Linked DNA regions of Homo sapiens: region 1 is linked to region 2. Evidence: fine-mapped expression QTL. A gene starts in region 2. The other region holds a variant in brackets. All regions are shown on one strand. Distances are between the middles of the regions. Region 1 has its middle 14 kb from the start of MGST3. Region 2 holds the start of ALDH9A1 (aldehyde dehydrogenase 9 family member A1).

Evidence for each region.
Region 1: its variant is fine-mapped to the expression of ALDH9A1 in whole blood (INTERVAL, PIP above 0.99).

The regions. Positions count from the first base shown.
Region 1 is chr1:165,614,811-165,620,188 of GRCh38, forward strand. No RefSeq gene overlaps it. Among named protein-coding and RNA genes, the nearest start is that of MGST3, 14 kb to the right of the region's middle. The variant A/ACACACACT (reference allele first, on the strand shown) is at 2,552.
Region 2 is chr1:165,695,351-165,700,728 of GRCh38, forward strand. It overlaps ALDH9A1 (aldehyde dehydrogenase 9 family member A1), which reads right to left and starts at 3,212. Exons shown (of 11, transcript NM_000696.4): 1 at 3,028-3,212; 2 at 1-47. The coding sequence starts at 3,208. It also overlaps the pseudogene CA14P1. RefSeq lists enhancers at 2,948-3,177, 3,021-3,603, 3,468-3,647 and a silencer at 3,208-3,397.

The sequences.
Region 1 (5,378 bases), 81 kb before region 2:
ATTTTAGTGCACCCATCACCTGAGCAGTGTACACTGTACCCAATGTGTAATCTTTTATCCCTCACCCCCCTCCTATGCTTCCCCTCAAGTCCCCAAAGTCCATTGTATTACATTATTCTTATGCGTTTTTGGCCTACTAGCTTAGTTCCTGCTTATAAGTGAGAACATACGATGTTTGGTTTTCCATTTCTGAGTTACTTCACTTAGAATTAACAGTCTGCAACTCCATCCAGGTTGCTGCGAATGCCATTATTTTTTTCCTTTTTATGGCTGAGTAGTATTCCATGGTATATATATACCACATTTTCTTTATTCACTTGTTGATTGATGGGCATTTGGGCTGGTTTCATATTTTTGCAATTGTGAATTGTGCTGCTATAAACATGCATGTTCAAGTGTCTTTTTCATAATATGACTTCTATTCCTCTTGGTAGATACTCAGTAGTGGGATTGCTGGATCAAACAATAGATCTACTTTTAATTCTTTAAAAAAACTCCACACTGTTTTCCATAGTGGTTGTACTAGTTTACATTCCCACCAGTAGCGTAAAAGTGTTGCCTTTTCACTACATCCACACTAACATCTATTTTTTTTTATTTTTTAAATTATGGCCATTCTTGCAGGAGTAAGATAATATCGCATTGTGGCTTTGATTTGCATTTTTCTGATAATTAATGATGGTGAGCATTTTTTCATGTTTTTGGCCATTTGTATATAAAATAAATTTGTATATAACTATTTTGAGAATTATCTATTCATGTCTTTTAGCCCACTTTTGGAAGAAATTTTTTTTTCTTGCTAATTTGTTTGAATTTCTTGTAGATTCTAGATATTAGTCCTCTGTCAGATGAATAAATCGTGAAAATTTTCTCCTACTCTTGGGTTGTCTGTTTACTCTGCTGATTTTTTTTTTCTATGCAGAAGCTTTTTCGTTTAATTAAGTTCCATCTATTTATCTTTGTTTTAGTTGCATTGCTTTTGGGTTCTTGGTCATGAAGTCTTTGCCTAAGCCAATGTCTAGAAGGGTTTTTCAGATGTTATCTCCTAGAATCTTTATGGTTTCAGGTCTTAGATTTTAAGTCTTTGATCCATCTTGAGTTGGTTTTTATATAAGGTTAGAGGTGAGGATCCAGGCTAAAGCACAAGAATCACTTGAACCCGGGAGTCAGAGGTTGCAGTGAGCCAAGATTGTGCCACTGCACTCCAGCCTGGGGGACAGAGTGATACTCTGTCTAAAAAAAAAAAAAGGTGAAAAGATATATCTCTTAAATTAGAATATAAATAAAGCACAGCCATACTTGACTTAGAAAAATAATAGAGCACAGGCAGTCATTGTTCTCTTTTAATTTACAACTTTTAACCTGAAGTGCTTAAACAGGGAGGTCCTAGAGAGCTTTTTATCTGAAAAGCTGTGTGAAGTGTTTGGCCCTGCCATACCATTCCCTTGCCCTCCATGTCTTTTGCTCAGGGACCAGGGAATTTGACAGGAGAATGTCAGTGAATGGGCAGAGTCAGAGCTGAGGCGAGCAGATCTTTGCTGAGGAGACATTGGACATAAGGTGTGCTCATAACACTACCTGAGCAAACAGCTCAGCTGTTGCAAAACAGCTCAGCATCAGAGGAGGCAGAAGTGATGCTAAGACTCCACTCATTCACAAAGGAGAAGCCAAATCAAACAGCTTGGCAAATCACAGCAGCTTGCTCAGATACTTGTTCTTTCCTTTATTAAACAAATATTTATTTGACACTTATCAGATGTTAAATTTGCCATAGGCCCTGGGAAAATAAAGGTGAAGTTTTTTTCCTGGAGGGATATTACTTTATAATGGAGGAGTGACACAGTAAGTGAATACATTATAACAAAAGATTAGATAGTAAGTGGTCTGAAGAGAAATAAAGCAAGGGAAGGAGATAGTGACCAATTGCTTGCCTATTTTAGAAGGACTGATCAGGAAAGGCCTTTCTGAGATGGTGGCATTTGGGCAGAGACTTGCATGGAGAGAGGCAACAGAGATGCAAGGTAGAAAAAGCAATCATGAAGACCCTGAGGTCAGAGCAAGTTTGGTGTGTTCAAGGATCAGCCTGAGATCCACTGTGGCCAGAGCAAAATAATAAAGGGAAGATGAAGTTAGAGAGGCCAGCAGTGGTCAAATCCAGTAGGATCTTGTGAGCTATGGATTTTATTCTCTGTGTGCCACTGGAGTGTCAGCCAGGCTCTAACTTGCTTAATAATGTTGAGAACTGTTGTCAGCTCTCTGGGCTTTCCAGGTATTTGATGCAGACTCATTCTCTGCTGAAGTACTTCGAGAAGTTCTTTCGAGGCACCCCGCTATGCACCACACCTTCCCCCAACTGGAGACACCTTTGCCTGTGTCTCCCTTGGTGTAGGTTAGTACTCCTGACTGCTCCCTTCTGCCAGAGCTTCCCTCCAGTCTCTTTCACCTGAGCTCACCTCTCCATGCAGTGCTCCCTCAATCTCTCTCTGTTCTTTCTCTTTCTCTCTCTTTCTCACGCGTGCGCGCGTCTGCACACACACACACACACACACAC[A/ACACACACT]CTCTCTCACTCACCAACCTTATCTGGGCCACAGCAATTGTTCAGCATCCTCTATCAGGAGATGGAGATGACTCCCCATTCAGCACTTTTGCCTCTCCCCTCCACTAGCACAGAGAGCCAGCCCCAGCCTCTAAACATGGGTCCCCTGCATCCACCAACTGCAAAAGACATTTAACCAGTTCACAGAGGGACTAAAGAAGCCCCTTTCCTTAGGCCAGTGTTTCTCAGCCTCAATGATATTGACATTTGGGGCATGTATTTTGTTATTGCAGGGGACTATCATATGCATTTGAGGATGTTTAGCAGCACTGTGTTCTGAATGTTGGTGTCCTCCCAAAATTCGTATGTTGGAACCTAATACCCAAGGTATAGTACTAAGAGGTGGGGTTTTTGGGAAGTGATTAGGTCATGAGGGCTCTACCCTTGTGAATGGGATTCATGCCCTTATAAAAGAGGCTTGAGGGAGCATGCTTGTCCCTTCCACCACATAAGAATGCAGCAGCAAGGCATCAACTCTGAAGCACAGAGGAGTCCTCAACAGACAGCAAACCTGCCAGCACCTTGATCTTGGACTTTCCAGCCTCCAGAACTGTGAGCAGTAAATTTCTGGTTTTTAGAAATTACCCATTTCAAGATATTTTGTTGCAGCAGCCTAAACAGACTAAGACAAGCAGGATTTCTGGCCACTAGCCAATAGATGCCAGCAGCAGCCCCCGAGCTGGGACAACCCAAAATGTCTCCAGACATTGCCAAATGTCCCCTGTGAGGCAAAATCACCTTAATGGACAAGCCACTTCAGCCCTGGGCTGAAAGTGAGGGAAATCCTGCTTCCCTGTGGGTATGGGGTATGGAGCTCAAAGTTCAAGTCAACAGCTTCCTCCTCATCAATCTCTAATTCCACCTTGGGCTTTCCAACCTCTTTTATATCCTCACGTGGCAAAGGCTCAAGGGTTGCAATACCCGTTTTCAAAAACCCTTTTTCCAAGTACTACAACACACACCTGCCATCTCCTTGGGAAACATGAGAGTATTTGGAACCTGGAATTCTGGCACCTCAGTCAAAACTGAGACATAAATCTTCCCATTCTCACATCCTATTATGCTATAATTTTTTATGAAAGAAAAACAGGGGCATACACACACATCACATATGTATTTGCTAGTACAGTCTCTGCATAGAGCATCTTTGGGAAGACTCACAAGAGTCTTGAACGATAATATTTGTTTTTTTCCAAGGTATTTTTTTCTAGGTGGCTGGACAAGCAAAGATAGAGACTTTTCACTTTTATAATTTTTGAATTTGAAACCATTTCACCTATAAAATTACCTTTAAAAGACAAAAAGATACAAGAAAAAAACAAACAACCCCATCAAAAAGTGGGCGAAGGATATGAACAGACACTTCTGAAAAGAAGACATTTATGCAGCCAAAAGACACATGAAAAAATGCTTATCATCACCGGCCATCAGAGAAATGCAAATCAAAACCACAACGAGATACCATCTCACACCAGTTAGAATGGCGATCATTAAAAAGTCAGGAAACAACTGGTGCTGGAGAGGATGTGGAGAAATAGGAACACTTTTACACTGTTGGTGGGACTGTAAACTAGTTCAACCATTGTGGAAGTCAGTGTGGCGATTCCTCAGGGATCTAGAACTAGAAATACCATTTGACCCAGCCATCTCATTACTGGGTATATACCCAAAGGATTATAAAGCATGCTGCTATAAAGACACATGCACACGTATGTTTATTGCGGCACTATTCACAATAGTAAAGACTTGGAACCAACCTAAATGCCCAACAATGATAGACTGGATTAAGAAAATGTGGCACATATACACCATGGAATACTATGCAGCCATAACAAATGATGAGTTCATGTCCTTTGTAGGGACATGGATGAAGCTGGAAACCATCATTCTCAGCAAACTATCGCAAGGTTAAAAAACCAAACACCACATGTTCTCACTCACAGGTGGGAATTGAACAATGAGAACACATGGACACAGGAAGGGGAACATCACACACCGGGGCCTGTTGTGGGGTGGGGGGAGGGGGGAAGGATAGCATTAGGAGATATACCTAATGTTAAATGACGAGTTAATGGGTGCAGCACACCAACATGGCACATGTATACATATGTAACAAACCTGCATGTTGTGCACATGTACCCTAAAACTTAAAGTATAATAAAAAAAAAAGATAAAAAGAGCCAATAATTCAAAAAAATAAAAGAAAGAAAGAAACCCCCAGTTTTAGGACCTAATAAGGAGAGGCAGGATTGCATAAGAAAAGCCCATATGGAGAGACTGTATTTATTATTAGAAGGCAAGAAGGTCCAGCTGCTCTGTGGCCCAAGTGTGTCCTGGGGTAAAAACTGAAGCAGATAAAAGAATTCGTGTAATTTTTATACAGATACTTCAGGTCTGTGAGACTCTGCCTCTGAAGAATGGATTTAAAAATTGATTATTCCTACCTGACAGCTAAAAAATCAATGTATTCTCTTTCCTTTCTTCCTTTTTTCCTTCCTTCCTTCCTTCCTTCCCTTCCTCCCTCCTTCCCTCTTTCCCTCTCTCCCTGCCTCTGTCTCTCTCTTTCCCTCCCTCCTTCCCTCCCTTCATTCCTTCCTTCCTTTCTCTCTCTCTCTCTCTGTCTCTCTCTCTCTTTATTTCTTCAAGTATTCAAGTGCTCACTATGTGCCAAGCAGTGTCCCAGGAGCTGAAGATACAGCAGTGACCAAAACAAAACCCCTGGCCTTCATATATCCTAATGCAGGGAGAGGACAGAAAATGTGGAATAAGTAAGTTAAACAGTGAGTTA
Region 2 (5,378 bases):
ATTTACTTCCTTTTCTCCTGAACATGTGAAAGTAGCTATCACTCGGCCTATAAAGAGCGGAAACATCAGTTTTAACTCAAATTGTTGCCACATATTTAAATAAAATATTATCTATCAATATTCTCTTAGTAGTAGTCTTTTTTTTTTTTTTTTTTTTTTTCTTGAGATGGAGTCTTGCTCTGTCACCCAGGCTGGAGTGCAGTGGCGCGATCTCGGCTCACTGCAACCTCTGCCTCCTGAGTTCAAGCGATTCCCCTGCCTCAGCCTCCTGAGTAGCTGGGACTACCAGTGCACGCCACTACGCCCAGCTAATTTTTTGTATTTTTTAGTAGAGACCGGGTTTCACCATGTTGACCAGGATGGTCTTGATCTCCTGACCTTGTGACCCACCCGCCTCAGCCTCCCGAAGTGCCGGAATTACAGGCGTGGGCTACCGTAACTTCTTGTTTTTATGTATGGTTTGATTTAGTGACCATCTCTATACTAGCAGGTTTTTTTGTTTTGTTTTTTTGTTTTTTAAGACGGAGTCTCGCTCTTGTTACCCAGGCTGGAGTGCAATGGCACGATCTTGACTCACTGCAACTTTTGCCTCCTGGGTTCCAGCAATTCTCCTGCCTCAGCCTCCCGAGTAGCTGGGATTACAGGCGCCTGCCACCACACACAGCTAATTTTTGTATTTTTAGTAGAGACGGGATTTCATCATGTTGGCCAGGCTGGTCTTACATTCCTGACCTCAAGTGATTCACCCACCTCTGCCTCCCCAAGTGCTGGGATTACAGCCATGAGCCACCACACCCGGCCTAGCAGTTCTTAACTGTATTTTGCGGTCATTGACATTAGGAGTCTGATAAAAGTTGCAGACCTCTCTCCAGAAAAATCTACTTAAACATATAACAGAATTACAGGAATGTCATGTCCCCTGCCCTAAACTCATCAAGGATTTAGAGTTAAGAACCCCTGCCCTCTACTATTTTACAGTTGAGTTTACTAACATTAACTTCTGATTAAGTTTTGCAACACTCCTAAACATTATCTCAGAATCTCAGGGGTCTTGTAAAATGAAAGTCAAAAGTAATCAGTCTATTGGGTTATAAACTCTGACTGTAAATCCCTTGTCTATATTCTATGTAGGTTATATCATACTACTTGATACTTGATAAATATAGTTAATAAGCAGTAATATCAGGATAAGGCAACCCTAAAGGAACATTTTTTTTTTCTCAAAAATTCCCAGATTTCCTTTTCTTATTCCACCTTTATTCCCTCTCCCTATTCTGGTGCAAATTATGAAACAATCAGTTTTTCTAGGCCCATAGCCCAAGGACTGTACTGCCTCTACCAACAAGAATTCTTTAAGTTTGCCAACTCAGCAAATCCTCTTCACAAGAACTCCTGGGACTCTTTCCAGGGAGATTTCACAAATCTGCAATTTCTGTTACAAACTTGAATAGCCAGCTGGTAAAGGCGGTGGCTGAGGATCACACACACTGTAGGCAATTAAAGCAAAGAGCAATTTTTCTTTCTTTTGTATCAGGATTAAGTCGGGGTAGAGAAGCTGTTTCCTCCTATATAAAGAAGAGATGTGATAATGCCTTCTGGCTCTGCCAAGTCACTGCTCTGTGGTTTAGTGTGGATGGTCAAATACTAAATTCTCCAGTCCCCTGCAAATCAGTTTTATTGCTCTGGCTACATTTTACACAAAATATTTACATTTTTCTCCCCACATATATTCCATAAAACCCAGCAAAATAAACACAACACAAAACCAAAACAAAAAGCCCCTTCTTCCTTATCTCTGTGACCTTCAGAGTTCCCAGAGTAAATCCAGTGCCTAGCACAGTGCTTAGCACACATTAAGCACTGGATTAAAAAGTTTTATTTCAGCAAGATGAATAAATTGTGGAGAGCTCACGTAGACCATGGTGACTATGGTTACCAATACTGCATCATATACTTGAAATTTGCTAAAAGAATAGATCTTAAATATTTCACTATCCAAAAAAAGCCATTAACTATGCAGAAGCAATGGATAATTAGATTGACCGTGGTAACCATTTTGCAAGGTATACATACATTACAACACGTTTTACACCTTAAGTATATACAATTTTTATTTGTTAATTATACTTCAATAAAGCTGGGGAAGAAAGTACTGAATAAAGGTGGGGTTTTTTCCTTTCCCAATTCTGATTAATGTGCAGAAATATTTTAATATTAGAATGTGGAGACAAAGTCCTCATTCGTAGTCATTAGAAACTATCTGTGAGCGTTCCTTCATTCCCAGCACAAATGATTATCTTCCCCACAACCCCGCCCCGTTCTTTTAGAATTCCTCTCCTATGCACACATTTGAAGACAATAATACATCAGTCCTGGTTTTAAAAGGGGGAACAGTTGGCTGGGCTTGGTGGCTCACGGCTGTAATCCCAGCACTTTGGGAGGCTGAGGCGGGAGGATCACCTAAGCTCAGGAGTTCGAGACCAGCCTGAGTAACATGCTGAAAACCCGTCTCTACTAAAAATACAAAAATTAGCCGGACATGGTGGTGGGAGCCTGTAATCCCAGCTACCAGGGAGGCTGAGGCGGGAGAAGCACTTGAGCCCGTAAGGTAGAGGGCGCAGTGAGCTCTGAGATGGTGCCCCTGCACTCCAGCCTGGGCGACAGAGTGAGACCCTGTCTCAAAACAAACAAAAAACAAACAAACAAACAAAACAAACAAAAAAGGAAGTTAACAGAGGCACGACTTCCCCCACCAGTACTTTGCGAACTCTGTTCTGGCCCGGGTAAAACAACTCACGATCCTACCACGCAACTCATCAGCTTTGCTTTTCCTCCCTACCCATCCCTGCCCGGAGGCACTCGCGTTGCCCCAGAATCGCTAGTTGCCTACACACACAACCTTAGACTCTCCACTGTCACTGTCTTGTGCTCAAGTCAACGCTGCAGAACACAGGAAACGGGGGCTGGCCGGGAAATCCGCGCATCCGGCCCCAGGGCGCCCCAGCCTCCCCGGCTCGTTGCAGTTACCGGTTGCTGGCTCGAAAGCTTTCTCGGTACCGGAGGCGTCCGCCGGCTCCACGCGGGCCCCGCCGCGGTAATTGAGCGGCTGCGACACGACGAAGGTGCCAGTGCTCATGGCGGCGACAGGAGAGGGCCGAAGACTGCGAAGAAGCGGGGAGAGCGCGGCCAGGCCTGCTCGGAGAAACATGAGTGGCGGACGCAGCTCCGCGGCAGAGGCTGACGGGCCGCGGGAGGGGCGGGGCCGCGGGAGGGGCGGGGCCGCGGGATCGGTTCTAGGAGATTTTAGGGGCAGTCACTCGATTCCTCTGCGGTCCAGGCCAGGCCCTCCCCTCGCCAGGAGGGTGGAGCAAGACACCACATTCTCCCCACCACCCCGCCATACCCCACACAGTCTCCAGGCGGGAAGAGGACTTCCTTCTTCGTGATCAATATTTGCGTAGCACTTTGCAAGTGTTTTCGGGTTCATCATTGCATGTAAGCATCCTAGGATCCCATTCTTAATCCTATCGCCTGAAGAAGGCAGAGGATTGGAGTGCCAAGAGTCTTTGGTGGTTACTTCACTGCTAAACCACCGTTTCTGTAATTGTATAATGCTTTTTAAAGGGTGACAGTAAAAAGCAAGGGGACTGTGAACGAGATAGATGATATTGTGATCTGAAACTGCTTTTTAAATTCTTAAAGAGAGACTGGGCGCTGTGGCTCTCACCAAGGCTGGAGGATCGCTTGAGCCCAGGAGTTTGCGGGCAACAGAGAGAGATCCCGTGTCTATAAAAAAATAAAATAAAAATAATAAAAATTGGGCCGGGCGCGGTGGCTCACGCCTGTAATCCTAGCACTTTGGGAGGCCAAGGCGGGCAGATCACCTGAGGTCAGGAGTTCGAGACCAGCCTGACCAAAATGGTAAAACCCCGTCTCTACTAAAAATACAAAAATTAGCTGGGTGTGGTGGCGGGCGCCTGTAATCCCAGCTACTTGGGAGGCTGAGGTGGGAAAATCGCTTGAACCCGGGAGACGGGTTGCAGTGAGCCGAGACTATGCCATTGCACTCCAGTCTGGGTGACAAGAGTGAAACTCAGAAAAAAAAAAAATTATCCAGGTGTGGTGGCACACGCCTGTGGCCCCAGGTACTTGGGCGGCTAAGGTGGGAGGATCCCCTGAGCCCCGGGGGTCCAAGCTTGCAGTGAGCTATAATCGTGCCACTGCACTCAGGCCTGGGCAACAGAGCGAGACCCTGTCTCAAAATAAATAAATTCTGAAGGAGCAATGTAAATGCTATTAATGACAAATATTGATAGAAACAGAAGCCTAACATACAGAATACGAAGAGCAAAGGCCACAGGAAAAAGTGTCAGGAAACAAAATGCCTTCTGTAAGACAAAGCAGCCACCCAGAGGCACTCACAGGTCTGTCAGCTGAGGGATCTTGCACAAAGGTTCATTCTTCTCACCAAACTTCCATGCACCTCCAGTAGAGACTTTGACAAACAGAAAGTAATTGGCAATTTGGACATTTCTTTTAGGATTGTTTCTCTTCTGGGGGCTGCTGTCTTTCTCAATGTTTTTTCCTTTACCTGCCAGCTCACCAGCGCAATATTAGGGAGTGTGGTTTTCAGGTTTAGAGTATATATAATGTATTCTGATCAAGTTTTCTGGCACTCTATACCAGTTTGTTCACTTTTTCAGTGCTACTGAGATGTGTAGGTCTTGGTCCTCAGATGGAAACAGCAGTGCCCAAACTCAGAATACCTGAGGCCACACTCACATATTATTTTATTATTGTCCATTGCAAACAGAATTGAAACATATCAGGAGTTGGTGACGAGCAGCACTATAGATTTCCAAGATCACTGAATGGTCATTTAGGTACAGAAACTATACGTCTCAAATTTTATGGGACAATTTCTATTTAAAAGATTCTGTCCCCAACCAATGCATTTTGACTTGTCACATCATAATTCCTGATGTTTGTTTTGGAAATGTGGTCGTGATGTCTATTGAATTAATTCATAGATGATAAGACTGACAAACCTCTGGCCAGGCACAGGACTCACACCTGTAATCTCAACACTTTGGGAGACCGTGGCAGGAGGATCGCTTGAGGCCAGGAGTTCAAGACCAGCCTGGGCAACATAGTGAGACTCTGTCTCTACAAAATATTTTTAAAAATTAGCCGAGCATGGTGGCACAAGCGTGTAGTCCTGACTACTCAAGAGACTGAGGTGGAGGATTGCTTGAGGCCAGGAGTTCAAGACTGGAGTGAGCGATCATGGCACCACTGCTCCAGCCTGGGCAACAGAGTAAGACCCTTCCCCAAAGAAAACAGATCTCCTCCAAAATATCTACCTTTTAAATATCTAG